4 linked regions of the Homo sapiens genome follow. The protein of the gene in region 1 purifies or fractionates together with the protein of each later gene. This does not show direct contact. Each region holds a gene or a part of one and is shown in the gene's direction. Other genes may lie near its edges.

Region 1 (3,296 bases):
CAAGGACAGGCCAGGCATAGCCGGGCTGGGGACGGGACCTGCCCAGCAGCACCCTTGGCTCTCTAGGTAGGTCCTACTGTTACTATCCCCAAGGACGCTGGGGCACAGACAGGTGGAGCGACGTACTGAGGTTGCCCACTGCAGGGGCGACTGTCTCCAACACTACCTCAGGCGACTAGAAACCCCCCCCCCCCACCACCACCATCAACACCAGCTGCTGAGGACTGGAGGCTACTGGGTGGCCAGGCAGAGGCTTGGACCTCCTGGAACCGCCATGGTGGCAGTGGGACCCACAGAAGGGGCCAGGTGTATGAGGCTGGAGACTCCACAGCACTTGGTCAGATGGGGACAGGAGGAGAGGGGCTCGCTCTGCCTTGGGTCTAGGGGGCGGCTGGAGGAGAGGAGACAGGCTGGGGAGTCAGCGCAGTGTTGGGGCTCACACAAGGGGGAGCCCAGGGGAGTCAGGAGCACCACAAACAAGGCTCCAGGAGGACAGATGGTGGGAGCACGGCCAGCCTGGGTGGGGACATAAAGGGGTGGCAGGGGGAGGTGGCCAGGGAAGAATCTACATGGCAAGGACTTCCCGGCCCCAGGCCTGGGCTACGCCTCCATGGTGATCGTCTTCTACTGCAACACCTACTACATCATGGTGCTGGCCTGGGGCTTCTATTACCTGGTCAAGTCCTTTACCACCACGCTGCCCTGGGCCACATGTGGCCACACCTGGAACACTCCCGACTGCGTGGAGATCTTCCGCCATGAAGACTGTGCCAATGCCAGCCTGGCCAACCTCACCTGTGACCAGCTTGCTGACCGCCGGTCCCCTGTCATCGAGTTCTGGGAGTGAGTCCGGCACCTCTGGGCCAAGCCCATCCCATCCCCCAGGTCTCCCTCATGTTGCCCGGCTCCAGGGGAGTGGCCCTGAGGGGGCACCAGGGTGTTGCCTGGCAGTCCATCCTGGACCCTGCCTGCCCTTGCCTGTCCTCGGAGAGTCCTGGGGCCAGCCTCGCTCCTGGGTTCGGCAGCCGATCACTGTCCTGGTCACTCCCCCCTGATGGGGGAGCTGGGGCTGCATGTGAGGTGGGATGGGAGTGGCCTCCCAATGGCCAGGGGATCGTGGGCTCCAGGCCCAGCCCAATTGGACAAGAGGGACCCGCTGAACCCTGGGCTGTGGGAGAGAAGGGAGCCACAACTCCTGGGGGTGGACCCTGTGGCTCCATCCTCTGCTGGCACAGGCCTCATGGGACCTCCCTCCCTCCCCTAGGAACAAAGTCTTGAGGCTGTCTGGGGGACTGGAGGTGCCAGGGGCCCTCAACTGGGAGGTGACCCTTTGTCTGCTGGCCTGCTGGGTGCTGGTCTACTTCTGTGTCTGGAAGGGGGTCAAATCCACGGGAAAGGTACCACTAGAGGCATGCAGCGGGGAGGGTGGCTCAGCCCTGGGAGCCGGATGTCTGTGCCAGGCACACCTGTGGCAACGGGAGGTGACCAGACAGAGTCTAGCCCTAAGGAAGGGGGAGGTACTGAAAGCCAAGCAATGCTCCCCACCCTGCAAATCCAGGGCCCAGCAGCCTTTGCTCCTGGGGATAGAGGCCCTGGCAGGCACTGTCCCTTCCCTGTGCCCATCACCCCCACTGGTGCCCTCCTGCCAGTCTCTGACTCTTGTGACAGTCTGGTGGACCTGGTCTGGCCATCTGTTACCTATCTTGCCTTGGGGACCCAGAGCAGAGTCTGGCCACATCCCTTGGGGGCTCCTGGTCAGGCTGGGGAGTCACCTGAACAAAGAAGACAGTGTCTAGAGCTGTGGGACATGGCCAGCTCCCTGGGGGACAAGGTCCCCAGAGCAGCATGTGGGAAGAGGGGGCAGACAGTGTGGCAGCTGCATCTCGCCTGCCTCTGCCTGGCCCAGTTCCACTCTCCACCTGCTCAACCCCCACCTCTCTCCAGAAGAGGAGGGGGACCCGACCCGGATCCAATATCCCGCTCCCTGCCTGGGCCTCCCACACCTGCACTGCCCACACACTCATACAGCTCTCACTCCCCACGTGCTCCACGCCTCCTGTCCCCACTGAGGAGAGCTCCCAGAGGCTCGCCTGCTCCCCACCGACACGCGTCCCTGCAGACAAACGAGGCGCCCAGGGAGCTTCCCCACTGCACTTGGCCAGGGCTGCCGGGGCGCAGCCTTGCCCCTAGCTTCCTCTGGCGGGAGCCATGGCTCGGAGGACAATGGGGACCTCTGAACATACCTGCCCGCAAGGGGGACCGGAGGCGCTGGGAGTGGGGGTGTGAGGGAGGTGGTGCCACAGCCTCCGCTGAGCAGCCTGGCCCCCCAGATCGTGTACTTCACTGCTACATTCCCCTACGTGGTCCTGGTCGTGCTGCTGGTGCGTGGAGTGCTGCTGCCTGGCGCCCTGGATGGCATCATTTACTATCTCAAGCCTGACTGGTCAAAGCTGGGGTCCCCTCAGGTGAGGTGGAGGTGGAGAGGCTGCAGCAGGGCGCTGCGGGGGAGCCCTGCAGGCCCCTCATGCCTGCGCTCTCCGGCCCTTCTCTAGGTGTGGATAGATGCGGGGACCCAGATTTTCTTTTCTTACGCCATTGGCCTGGGGGCCCTCACAGCCCTGGGCAGCTACAACCGCTTCAACAACAACTGCTACAAGTAAGCACCGCCGCCCTGCCACCCGTGCCCTGTCCTGCCCTGCCCCGCCCTGCCCAGCAGCCTAACCCATCCACTCTGGCCCCTCCACCCCTCAGGGACGCCATCATCCTGGCTCTCATCAACAGTGGGACCAGCTTCTTTGCTGGCTTCGTGGTCTTCTCCATCCTGGGCTTCATGGCTGCAGAGCAGGGCGTGCACATCTCCAAGGTGGCAGAGTCAGGTAGGGCCCTACCCCCAGCCCCGCCTCCAGAGCAGCGAGTGCTACCCAGATGCATGATGTACAGGAACATGCAATAGAAATGCTGAAAAGTGACGAGGATTCAAACGGAACTTGTCAGATTGTGGGCCTGTGGGGGCAGGTCCTGGGATTTGTCAATGTTGACAGAGAAAGGACCTCCCAGCCCCTGCCGCACGACCCAGGGTTGACAGCGCCTCTGAGGCAGGCGTGGGCATGGGCGCGAGTGTTGCAGGCAGGGCTCAGGGTGCGCACAGGGCAGGACATCGGCTACAAGGTCTAGAGCCTGCACCTTTCCCACAGGGCCGGGCCTGGCCTTCATCGCCTACCCGCGGGCTGTCACGCTGATGCCAGTGGCCCCACTCTGGGCTGCCCTGTTCTTCTTCATGCTGTTGCTGCTTGGTC
Region 2 (3,716 bases), on another chromosome or scaffold:
TGTAGTGTATGCAGTTCTTCAACCTCACCAAAGTGGTTAAGCTCCCATAAGTAGGAATGCGGTTTCTGTTGCGCCACATCCCTGCCAATACTTGGTATTGACAGACTTTTTACTTTTTGCCTTTCTGATGAGTTTTGAATAGTATTTCACTGTGGTATTCATTGACTTTTTCCCTTCTAGAATGTTAGAGATCTTTCCATGTGCATTAAGTAAATTTGCCTTAAATTGCTGCAGCCTAGGATTGAAGTACACCAGAGCTTATTCCGTCAGGTCCCTGCTATTGAGCTGTTTCCATTCTTTTTATTTTATTTTGTATTTTTATTTTTGCAATTGCAGTCTGTGCTGCAAGTAAAAATCCTTGTGTATATCTTCTGCACATGTGAGTTTTTCTCTAAGACTGTGGTCTTTACCCCCTTCTCTGAAGCCCACAAGCATTGGAAAAACACCAGCTCTGTAAATTGCCCCGTTTTTTCCCGTATTCCTGTAATATCTGATAGACGAAGGAGTATGGTGTGAAGTCATGGAGTCAGTGTTCAGGGCCAAGGCCAGTCTTGCCTGCTGCCAACACTGTCTCCGCTCTGGGCTTCCTCATCATGACACCTTCTACCTCTTCATCTACCAAAGGACTTTAGGTCAGGTGGAAAACTTACCTTTCACATCAAGGAAGGGAGATAGGGCTGGGGCAGGCGAGAATGAGCTTGATCCTTCTGCCCTGCCAGGCTTCTAGGGACCTTTTGTGTGTGTGTGTGACTTGTTAACATTTTTTTGTTCTGAGATTTCACTTGTCTGTGGCATAGATTTTATTATTAGTAACTGATCTAATACTGCATGAAAAGGCTTGTTTTAAAATTAATCATATGATTACTACTGCCTTTTTTTTTTTTTGAGACGGAGTCTCACTCTGTTGCCCACGCTGGTGTGCAATGGCATGATCTCAGCTGACTGCAGCCTCTATCTCCCAGGGTCAAGCAATTCTCCTGCCTCAGTCTCCTGAGTAGCTGGGATTATAAGTGCCCACCACCACGCCAGGCTAATTTTTTGTATTTTTAGTAGAGACAGGGTTTCACCATGTAGGCCAGGCTGGTCTCAAACTCCTGACCTCAAATGATCTACCTGCCTCGGCCTCCCAAAGTGCTGGGATTATAGGCGTGAGCCACCGCGCCTGGCCGATTACTACTACCTTTAAAACAATGTTTTCTATCTGAGGATGTTGGGATAAAATCCACTCTAGGTATACATTACAACCAAGGGCAACCCCTCTAGACTAGAATGCTGCAGGTTATATTTGCAAAGAGGGCTGTTTCCTTTTCTTAGGAATTTTGATCATTTGGACAGGATTCCTTCTTGAAAGGAATCAGCACTGAGGCCCTTATATGGAATATTTCCATCACTCCCTAGGGTTGGCCTGTGCCCTTTCACAGTTCCTTCCATCCTCCATGCCTGGCTGTGGGCAACCCCTGATCTGCCTTCTGTCACTATAGATTAGTGGCATTTCAAGAGGAGCATTTATATATTTTTAAAAAGATTCCTCAGAGTTTTAACTCCAAAAGCTGCCAAGAAAATTAGATTCTGCTAATTGCATCATCAGCAAACACTGAAATCTGTTCATTCAATATTGGCTTCCTTCTGTATTCAATGAACTGTCTTTTCTTTAAAAAATATCTTTAAGAAATAGTTTGGTACCTGCAAAACTTTGATCACTTTTTTTCTTTTTTAACAGGTGGTGCTTTGCATATCAGTTGATGTATCTCAAGACTATAACCAAGTAGAGAATGTCATAAAACAAGTAAGAGGTTGGGCTAATTGGAATTCACCAATGTGCTTGACTTTTGATTTGTTCTTGCCATTTTGCTATGTGGCTTGGAATGGACACAACTTCTCTATAGGTTTAATAGTTTTGTAAATTTTATTTATCAGCATGGATTTGCTGCTGAGTGGTTTTTCTTCTCTGTTTCTTAATGCCTGCTCTGCTACATTTTTCTAGGCACAGGAGAAACTGGGTCCAGTGGACATGCTGGTAAATTGTGCAGGAATGGCAGTGTCAGGAAAATTTGAAGATCTTGAAGTTAGTACCTTTGAAGTAAGTAAAAATGTTTGCTCACTGCAGTAGCACATATGCTAAAAGCAGAGCAAGCTACGGGTAAAAGCTTTAAGAATCAATTAGATGAATGCATTCAGATGTCCATGGAAGCTTTAGAAGACTCTAGAGGAAGGCTGAACAAGGTGAAGCTGAACAAGGTTTTCATCCCAGTGTCAGGACCATTGAAGCTTAAGAGTTTAGACATTTTACAGCTGAGAAAACCAGCTAAAATGGGAATGGACCTTCTAATCTGACACAGATTACTGTAGCAGTTCACTGAGGTCATATTTTCAAGAGAACACTTTGTAACCTAAGAGATGCCGGATGTTCCTATCAAACATCAGTATTATTAACAAGGAGAAACCAAAAAAGTTGAAGGACAGACTCACTAGAGTTCTCAAATCAAGATAAAAAGATACTGCATCTTATTGATGTTTCTATTTTTAATCAGGTTTACCAAGGAACTTCTCTTGGTAATTTATTTCAGCACCAAAGAAATGAACACTAGATTTGAAATTTTTATTTTTTCTTTTTTTGAGATGGAATTTCACTCTGTCACTCAGGCTGGAGTGCAGTGGCGTGATCTCAGCTCACTGCAACCTCCACCTCTCAAGTTCAAGTGATTCTCCTGCTTCAGCCTCCCTAGTAGCTGGGATTACAGGCACATGTCACCACACCCAGCTAATTTTTTTTATTTTAGTAGAGATGGGTTTACGCCACGTTGGCCCGGCTGGTCTCAAACTCCTGACCTCAGGTGACTGGCCCACCTCTACCTCCCAAAGTGCTGGGAGTACAGGCATGAGCCACCAGGCCCGGCCTGAAATGTTTTTAAAATGGAAAACGTTTTTTAGTTGCCATCGCATCAACAATCTTTTTCTTCCTTTTTTTTGAGACAGAGTCTTGCTCTGTCGCTGAGGCTGGAGTACAGTGGCACGATCTCGGCTCACTGCAACCTCTGCCTCCCGGGCTCAAGCGGAGTGTCCTCCAGCCTCCTGTGAGGATGAAGCTGGGGAGTGTGTTGGTGTCTTCGTGTGCGCCGTCTAGACAGACTTTCCCTTAAACCTCTCTCTTTATCTAGACTTACTATCCCTAGAAACAGAACCTCCAGTCTCCTGCCAGGCTGGAAGAGGGGTACAGATCTACCCTGTGGAGAGGGGAAAAACATCTAAGATCTAACTGCCTTTTTTTTTCATTGTCCTACATTATTTTTTTAATTTGAAGTGAAATTCATATAACATAAAATTAACTGTTTTTAAAGTGAGCCATGCAGAGGGATTCAGCATATTCACAATGAGGTGCACCCACCCCCTCCGCCTAGTTCTAAAGCATATGCATCACCCATAGGGCGGCCCTCACCTGGTAAGCAGTTGCTCCCCATCCCTGCTCACCCCCACACCCAATCTCTGACAACCACCAATCTGTATTCTGTCTCTGGTCATTTCGTATGATTGGAATCATGATATGTGCACTTCTGTGTCTGACCTCTTTCTCTTAGCATCAGTTTTTGAGGCTCATCCACATGTAGCATATATGGGTGCCTCATTCCTTTTTATAGGGTGGTGATATTCCTTTGTATGGATCGACCACATTCTGTTTAGCTATTCATCATCGATGGCCATTTGGGCTGTGTCTAGCT
Region 3 (3,026 bases), on another chromosome or scaffold:
TGACCATGTCGGAGGACAGACCCATGCTGCAGTTAAGTGGGTCGCTTGGTGGGTGGGGGGACTAGGGAGCTTAAGGGAGAGACTCGAGGAGAGGGGGTACCCAGGCCTCACTCCCTCCTGCCCTCACCCCCCAGGTTCCTCCTGCACACCAGCTTCCTGTCTCCCCTGTTCATCCTGTGGCTCTGGACAAAGCCCATTGCACGGGACTTCCTGCACCAGCCGCCGTTTGGGGAGACGCGTTTCTCCCTGTGCGTATTGGGTGGGGCTAGGAGGTAGCTGGGGCTCCCCTGGGTGCCCTAGCCTCTGAGATTCAGGGAGGAGCCTGGGGAAGATCCTGGGGGGTCGGGGGCGACCTTCTTAGTCCCTTGCCCCCGGCCCTCTCCGCACAGGCTGTCCGATTCTGCCTTCGACTCTGGGCGCCTCTGGTTGCTGGTGGTGCTGTGCCTGCTGCGGCTGGCGGTGACCCGGCCCCACCTGCAGGCCTACCTGTGCCTGGCCAAGGCCCGGGTGGAGCAGCTGCGAAGGGAGGCTGGCCGCATCGAAGCCCGTGAAATCCAGCAGAGGGTATGGACGCCCCGATGACCTAGGCCAGAGGGAACCTGGGGCTCAGGGTGGGGTTCCTGGTCCTTTGGGCGTGGAGTCGTCCCAAACCAGAAGGCCTCCTGCTGCAGCCACCCCTGCTACCTGCCCACAGGTGGTCCGAGTCTACTGCTATGTGACCGTGGTGAGCTTGCAGTACCTGACGCCGCTCATCCTCACCCTCAACTGCACACTTCTGCTCAAGACGCTGGGTGAGATGCCGCGGTGTGGGGGTGGAGGAGGGGCGGAGTTGGAAGATAAAACAGAGTGGAGGTGGACTCTGGCGGGGACCGCGGTGGGGGGGGAGAGGCGGGGCCTAGGCAGGGGGCGGAGACTGTGGTAAGGCAGGGTCTGAGCAGGAAGCGGAGCCTGGAGTGGGGCTTGCCTTGGACAGGAAGTGGAGCCTGGGGATGGGTGCAATCTGAGCAGGAGGCGGGGCCTGGGTAGGGGGCGGGGACTGTGGTGAGGCAGGGTCTGAGCAGGAGGTGGAGTTTGGGATGGCGTTTGCCTTAGGAGGTGGAGCCTGGGGAGGGGTTGCGTCTTGGCAGGAGGCGGGGCCTGGGGAGGGGGCAGGGCATGTATTGAGGCAGGATCTGAGCAGGAGGTGGGGCCTGGGGTAGGGTTTGCCTTGGACAGGGGGCAGCGCCTGAGGGGGTGGAGACTGGGCTGGAGATGGAGTCTGAGACAGGGGTGGGAGTGTCTGGAGGAATGGGCCTGGCCCCCCGTGCCAGCCCTGTCCCTCGCCCCCTCCCCCATTTTTCCACTCATACCTCGCTTCATCCTCTTCTCCTAGGAGGCTATTCCTGGGGCCTGGGCCCAGCTCCTCTACTATCCCCCGACCCATCCTCAGCCAGCGCTGCCCCCATCGGCTCTGGGGAGGACGAAGTCCAGCAGACTGCAGCGCGGATTGCCGGGGCTCTGGGTGGCCTGCTTACTCCCCTCTTCCTCCGTGGCGTCCTGGCCTACCTCATCTGGTGGACGGCTGCCTGCCAGCTGCTCGCCAGCCTTTTCGGCCTCTACTTCCACCAGCACTTGGCAGGCTCCTAGCTGCCTGCAGACCCTCCTGGGGCCCTGAGGTCTGTTCCTGGGGCAGCGGGACACTAGCCTGCCCCCTCTGTTTGCGCCCCCGTGTCCCCAGCTGCAAGGTGGGGCCGGACTCCCCGGCGTTCCCTTCACCACAGTGCCTGACCCGCGGCCCCCCTTGGACGCCGAGTTTCTGCCTCAGAACTGTCTCTCCTGGGCCCAGCAGCATGAGGGTCCCGAGGCCATTGTCTCCGAAGCGTATGTGCCAGGTTTGAGTGGCAAGGGTGATGCTGGCTGCTCTTCTGAACAAATAAAGGAGCATGCCGATTTTTACAAACAGGGTCTGAGTGGTTTGGGACTCGGGCTTGTGCAGGGTGGTAGCTGTCTTGCACGTCCCTGTGGCACCTGCCCGGGTGCAGGGTGGGGGCTGCGCGGGAGGGAGAGAGGAGCAGGACTGAGAGGGGAGCAAAGGTCTGGGAGGAGAAAGGAGAGCAAGAAGGAGGCCAGGCTCGGCGGCTCACGCCCGTAATCCCAAATCCCAGCACTTTGGGAAGCCAAGGCGGGCAGATCACTTGAGGCCAGCAGTTTGAGACCAGCCTGGTCAACGCATGGTGAAACCCAGTCTTTACTAAAATAACAAAAATTAGGCATGGTGGCGCATGCATGTAGTTCCAGCTACTGAGAAGGATGAGCCAGAAGAGTCGCTTGAACCTGAGAGGTGGAGGCTGCAGTGAGCCGAGATCGCATCACACTCCAGCCTGGGTGACAGAGTGAAACTCTGTCTCAAAAAAAAAAAAAAAGAAAAAGAAGAAATGCAAGTGTCCCAGGAAAAGTCCAAAAGCAGGATGGAAGAGACCAGAAATCAGGGGAAGTTGGAGTCCCAGCTGAGAGGGCAGGTGGCCTGGGACGGACGGGCAGGTGAGAGAAATGCACCATGAGGGAGTGCCAGGAGAAGGTTAGATGGGCAGGGAAACCTTAGAGGAAAACCAGTTTGAGGAATGGGAGGGCGGGGAGCCCACAGTGATGCCAGCGTCTGCTACAGGTATGCAGGTGACTTGTATAGATATCACACACAGGGAGGGGGGAGGGGCATATTGAGGCCTTGGTGACCCAGGGAAGGGATGTGGGGCCGTCATGGACTCTGAAATTGTCCTGTAGCTGTGACTCCAGGGTGTGTCCACACGTGTGTTACAATGTAAGGTGCAGGCTGGGTGCCGTGGCTCATGCCTGTAACCCAACACTTTGGGAGACCGAGGCAGGCCAATCACCTGAGGTCAGCAGTTCAAGACCAGCCTGGCCAACATGGTGAAACCCTGTCTCTACTAAAATACAAAAAAAATTAGCCAAGCGTGGTGGTGCACACTTGTAATCCCAGCCTCTCGGGAGGCTGAGACAGGAGAATCGCTTGAACCCGGGAGGCAGAG
Region 4 (3,716 bases), on another chromosome or scaffold:
TGCTGGGGCCGAGGGGCTGGGGACATGTTATGGACTCAGCGTCCTCCCTGTCCCTGCAGGTCCGGTGTTTGTGGAGCTGCCCGTTGACGTGCTGTACCCCTACTTCATGGTCCAGAAGGAGATGGTGCCAGCCAAGCCACCCAAGGGCCTCGTGGGCCGAGTGGTCTCCTGGTGAATAGCCCCACCCCTGCCATTCCCTCCTTTATCCCCCGTTCTCTCCTGCAGCTTCCAGCCCACACCCATCCTCCTTTGATTCACATGTGGACTGGGAGGAGACAGCTGGGGGGAGAGCATTCCAGGTAGAAGGAACAGCATGTGCAAAGGTCCTGAGGCAGGAATGAACTGGGTGGGTAGGGAAAGCAAGGCGGCCCTCGTGGAGGCAGCAAAGGGGAGAGGCTCAGGACAGCCCTCCTCCTCCTCCTTTTCCCTTTCTTCTCCTCCTCCATCATCTCTTCTTCCTCCTCTTCCTCCTCCCTCTTCCTTCCTCTTCTCCTCCCTTTCCCCCACCACCTTTCCCATCGTCCTCTCCGTTTTCCTCCTCCTAAAGGATGATCCTTGAACCTCGGAAGGGAGGTTCATTCTTACATTTACAGAGGAGGAAGCTCAGAAAGGTGAAGTCACTTGCCCAAAGTCACACAGCTAAGAAGTGGCAGAGCCCAGGCCGGGTGCGGTGGCTCTCACTTGTAATCCCAGCACATTGGGAGGCCGAGGTGGGCAGATCACGAGGTCAGGAGATCGAGACCATCCTGGCTAACATGGTGAAACCCCATCTCTACTAAAAATACAAAAAAAAAAAAAATTAGCCGGGCGTGGTGGCGGGCGCCTGTAGTCCCAGCTACTTGGGAGGCTGCGGCAGGAGAATGGCGTGAACCCAGGAGGTGGAGCTTGCAGTGAGCCAAGATCGTGCTACTGCACTCCAGCCTGGGTGACAGAGCAAGACTCCGTCTCAAAAAAAAAAAAAAAAGTGGCAGAGCCCAGACTCGAGCCCTCTCCTTCCTCCTCCTTTCCTTCCCTCACATCTTTGTCCTTTTCTTTCTTTTTTTTTTTTTTTGAAACAGATTCTTCGTTCTGTTGCCTAGGCTTGAGTGCAGTGGCGTGATCTCGGCTCACTGCAACCTCCGCCTCCCCCTGGGTTCAAGTGATTTTCCTGCCTCAGCCTTCTGAGTAGCTGGGACTACAGGCGCCCGCCACCACACCTGGCTAATACTTGTATTTTTAGTAGAGACGAGGTTTCATCATGTTGGCCAGGCTGGTCTTGAACTCTTAACCTCAAGTGATCCACCCTCCTCGGCCTCTCAAACATTACAGACATGAGCCACTGCGCCTGGCCTCTTCTCTTCTTCTTCTTCCTTTCCTTTCTTCTCCTCCTCCTCTTCCTCTTCTTCCTCCTTCTCTCCCTTCCCCTCAGTCCCTTCCCTTTGCCTGTCCTTGGCCCTTCCTTTCCATACATTTAGCGAGCGGCAGCCATGTGCCAGGTTCCAGGACAGGCACGGGGCATCATCAGTGGACAAGGTAGTCAGGCTCCTGTACTCCGGATGTGTGTGAAGCGCCTGAGGGTCAGCTCAGGCAGTAGTGATTTTGTTCTATGGCCTCTTTATTTTTTTTGAGACGGAGTCTCGCTTTGTCCCCCAGGTTGGAGCGCAGTAGTGCGATCTTGGCTCACTGCAACCTCCACCTCCCGGGTTCAAGTGATTCTCCTGCCTCAGCCCCCGGAGTAGCTGGGAATACAGGTGCAGTCCACCATACCCAGCTAATTTTTGTATTTTTAGTAGAGATGAGGTTTCACCATTTTGGTCATATAGCCTCATTCTTAATGCACTTTGCCCCCTGGCTTCCCAGTCAGTCCCTCCCCTTGTTCTCCTTGCCCCTCTCTCTTGGGCTGCCTCTCACAAGGCTATCTCTTATCTTGCCTTTTTTGTTTTGTTTTGTTTTGAGACAGGGCCTCACTCTATCACCCAGGCTGGAGTGCAGTGGTATGATCATAGCTCACCACAGCCTTGAACTCCTGGCCTCGAGCAATCCTCCTGCCTCAGCCTCCCTTGCCTTTTCTTTACTTGCGGGGCTTCCCACGGTTCCATCCTGGGCTGCTTCTGTGCTGTCTTGGCCTGTCCTTAACGGTGAAAGCAGAGGCTTCTGACTCTGAGCTCCGACTGTTTCCTGCCAATGCCCATGTGTCTGTCTTTCGCTGGATAGAGCGCCCCCTGAGGGGAGGGCTGGGCAGGATCTATCTTTGTGTCTCCAGGGCCCTGCACAGGTCCTTCAGGAAAGTTGGGGCCCTGGGGCCCAGTGAGCAAGGAGACCGAGAAGACCCTGTTTGAAGCAGGAGAGGACAGTGTTCAGAACTCCCATGCAAAGCGCCTCATGTCCTAAGTGGACAGATCCTTGAACCTGGGGAGGGAGGTTCATATTTACATTGACAGAGGTGGAAGCTCAGAAGGGTGAAGTCACTTGCCCTAAGTTGCACAGCTAGGAAGTGACAGAGCCAGGACTTGAGCTCACATCTGTTGGACCCACAGGCTTAATCCTGGCATGCTGAGCCTGCGTTCCTTGCTTCTGGGGGGCTACGTGGAGTTGGGGTGGACCCCAGAGGCTACCGAGGGCAAACAGGCAGTTGAAGACCTGGCCACTAGGGTTCGTCTGTCCCTGAGGTGTCACTCATCCACCCTGTCCCCATGCCACTTTGCTCCTGGCTTTTCTCCCGGCCCCTTTCCTTGCTCAGATCCTGGAATCCTTGTAGTTAGTTAATTCTGGCAACTTGGTTTCTTCCCCCTCCCTTTTGCAGGTATTTAGAGAATTACCTGGCCAACCTCTTTGCAGGAGCCTGGGAGCCTCAGCCCGAGGGACCGCTGCCCCTGGACATCCCCCAGGCTTCCCCGCAGCAGGTGAATTGCCTCTCTTTTGTGTCTGAGGACCCTACCCTCTCCCTGAGGGGAGAGGGCCCCCTGACCCTCTCCCTGAGTCAGTACTGGGGCCTTAATCTTGGGTGCTCATGGCGACTCAAGGGCGGCCCTTTGGCTGGACGCGGTGGCTCACAGCAGCAATCCCAACACTTAGGGAGGCCGAGGCAGGCGGATCACTTGAGGCCAGGAGTTCAAGACTAGCCTGGCCAACATGGTGAAACCCTGTCTCTACTGAAAATACAAAAGTTAGCCAGGCATGGTGGCACGCGCCTGTAATCCCAGCTACTCTGGAGGCTGAGGCGGGAGAATCGTTTGAACCTGGGAGGTGGAGGCTGCAGTGAGCTGAGATCATGCCATTACACTCTATCCTGGGCAACAGAGTGAAACTGTGTCTCAAAAAAATAAATAAATAAAAAGACAGCCCTTTGATCCCCACCTCTCGCTCCAGGTTCAGCGCTGTGTGGAGATCCTGAGCCGGGCCAAGAGGCCTCTGATGGTGCTGGGGAGTCAGGCCCTGCTCACCCCAACGTCTGCCGACAAGCTTCGGTGAGAAGCGCCAGCCCTGCCCTTGTTTTCACGTTCCCAGTCCCCAGTCCTCGGGTGCTCTTGGGGAGGCGGGAGGCCCCGGCCACACTGACCTCTGCTCTGCCTGGACTCCCAGGGCTGCCGTGGAGACCTTGGGTGTTCCCTGCTTCCTTGGAGGGATGGCACGGGGGCTGTTAGGCCGCAACCACCCCCTCCACATCCGGGAGAACCGCAGTGCGGCCCTGAAGAAGGCGGATGTCATTGTCCTAGCAGGTGGGCCTGAGCCTCTTC

The links.
Region 2: the proteins of SLC6A8 (region 1) and KDSR purify together in Homo sapiens (affinity purification with mass spectrometry; 2 studies listed by BioGRID and IntAct, with this or other methods). This does not show direct contact.
Region 3: the proteins of SLC6A8 (region 1) and TMEM161A purify together in Homo sapiens (affinity purification with mass spectrometry; 2 studies listed by BioGRID and IntAct, with this or other methods). This does not show direct contact.
Region 4: the proteins of SLC6A8 (region 1) and HACL2 purify together in Homo sapiens (affinity purification with mass spectrometry; 2 studies listed by BioGRID and IntAct, with this or other methods). This does not show direct contact.

The regions. Positions count from the first base shown.
Region 1 is NC_000023.11:153,690,711-153,694,006, forward strand, and holds part of SLC6A8 (sodium- and chloride-dependent creatine transporter 1), read left to right. Parts: intron 1-593; coding exon 594-843; intron 844-1,264; coding exon 1,265-1,397; intron 1,398-2,330; coding exon 2,331-2,465; intron 2,466-2,552; coding exon 2,553-2,656; intron 2,657-2,751; coding exon 2,752-2,876; intron 2,877-3,194; coding exon 3,195-3,296. UniProt on the Homo sapiens protein: Creatine:sodium symporter which mediates the uptake of creatine. Plays an important role in supplying creatine to the brain via the blood-brain barrier.
Region 2 is NC_000018.10:63,353,568-63,357,283, reverse strand, and holds part of KDSR (3-ketodihydrosphingosine reductase), read left to right. Parts: intron 1-1,720; coding exon 1,721-1,786; intron 1,787-1,984; coding exon 1,985-2,080; intron 2,081-3,716.
Region 3 is NC_000019.10:19,118,530-19,121,555, reverse strand, and holds the end of TMEM161A (transmembrane protein 161A isoform 1 precursor), read left to right. Parts: coding exon 1-31; intron 32-134; coding exon 135-248; intron 249-389; coding exon 390-564; intron 565-694; coding exon 695-791; intron 792-1,372; coding exon 1,373-1,626; 3' UTR 1,627-2,387; downstream 2,388-3,026. UniProt on the Homo sapiens protein: May play a role in protection against oxidative stress. Overexpression leads to reduced levels of oxidant-induced DNA damage and apoptosis.
Region 4 is NC_000019.10:15,119,148-15,122,863, reverse strand, and holds part of HACL2 (2-hydroxyacyl-CoA lyase 2), read left to right. Parts: intron 1-59; coding exon 60-171; intron 172-2,782; coding exon 2,783-2,882; intron 2,883-3,348; coding exon 3,349-3,446; intron 3,447-3,561; coding exon 3,562-3,698; intron 3,699-3,716. UniProt on the Homo sapiens protein: Endoplasmic reticulum 2-OH acyl-CoA lyase involved in the cleavage (C1 removal) reaction in the fatty acid alpha-oxydation in a thiamine pyrophosphate (TPP)-dependent manner. Involved in the phytosphingosine degradation pathway.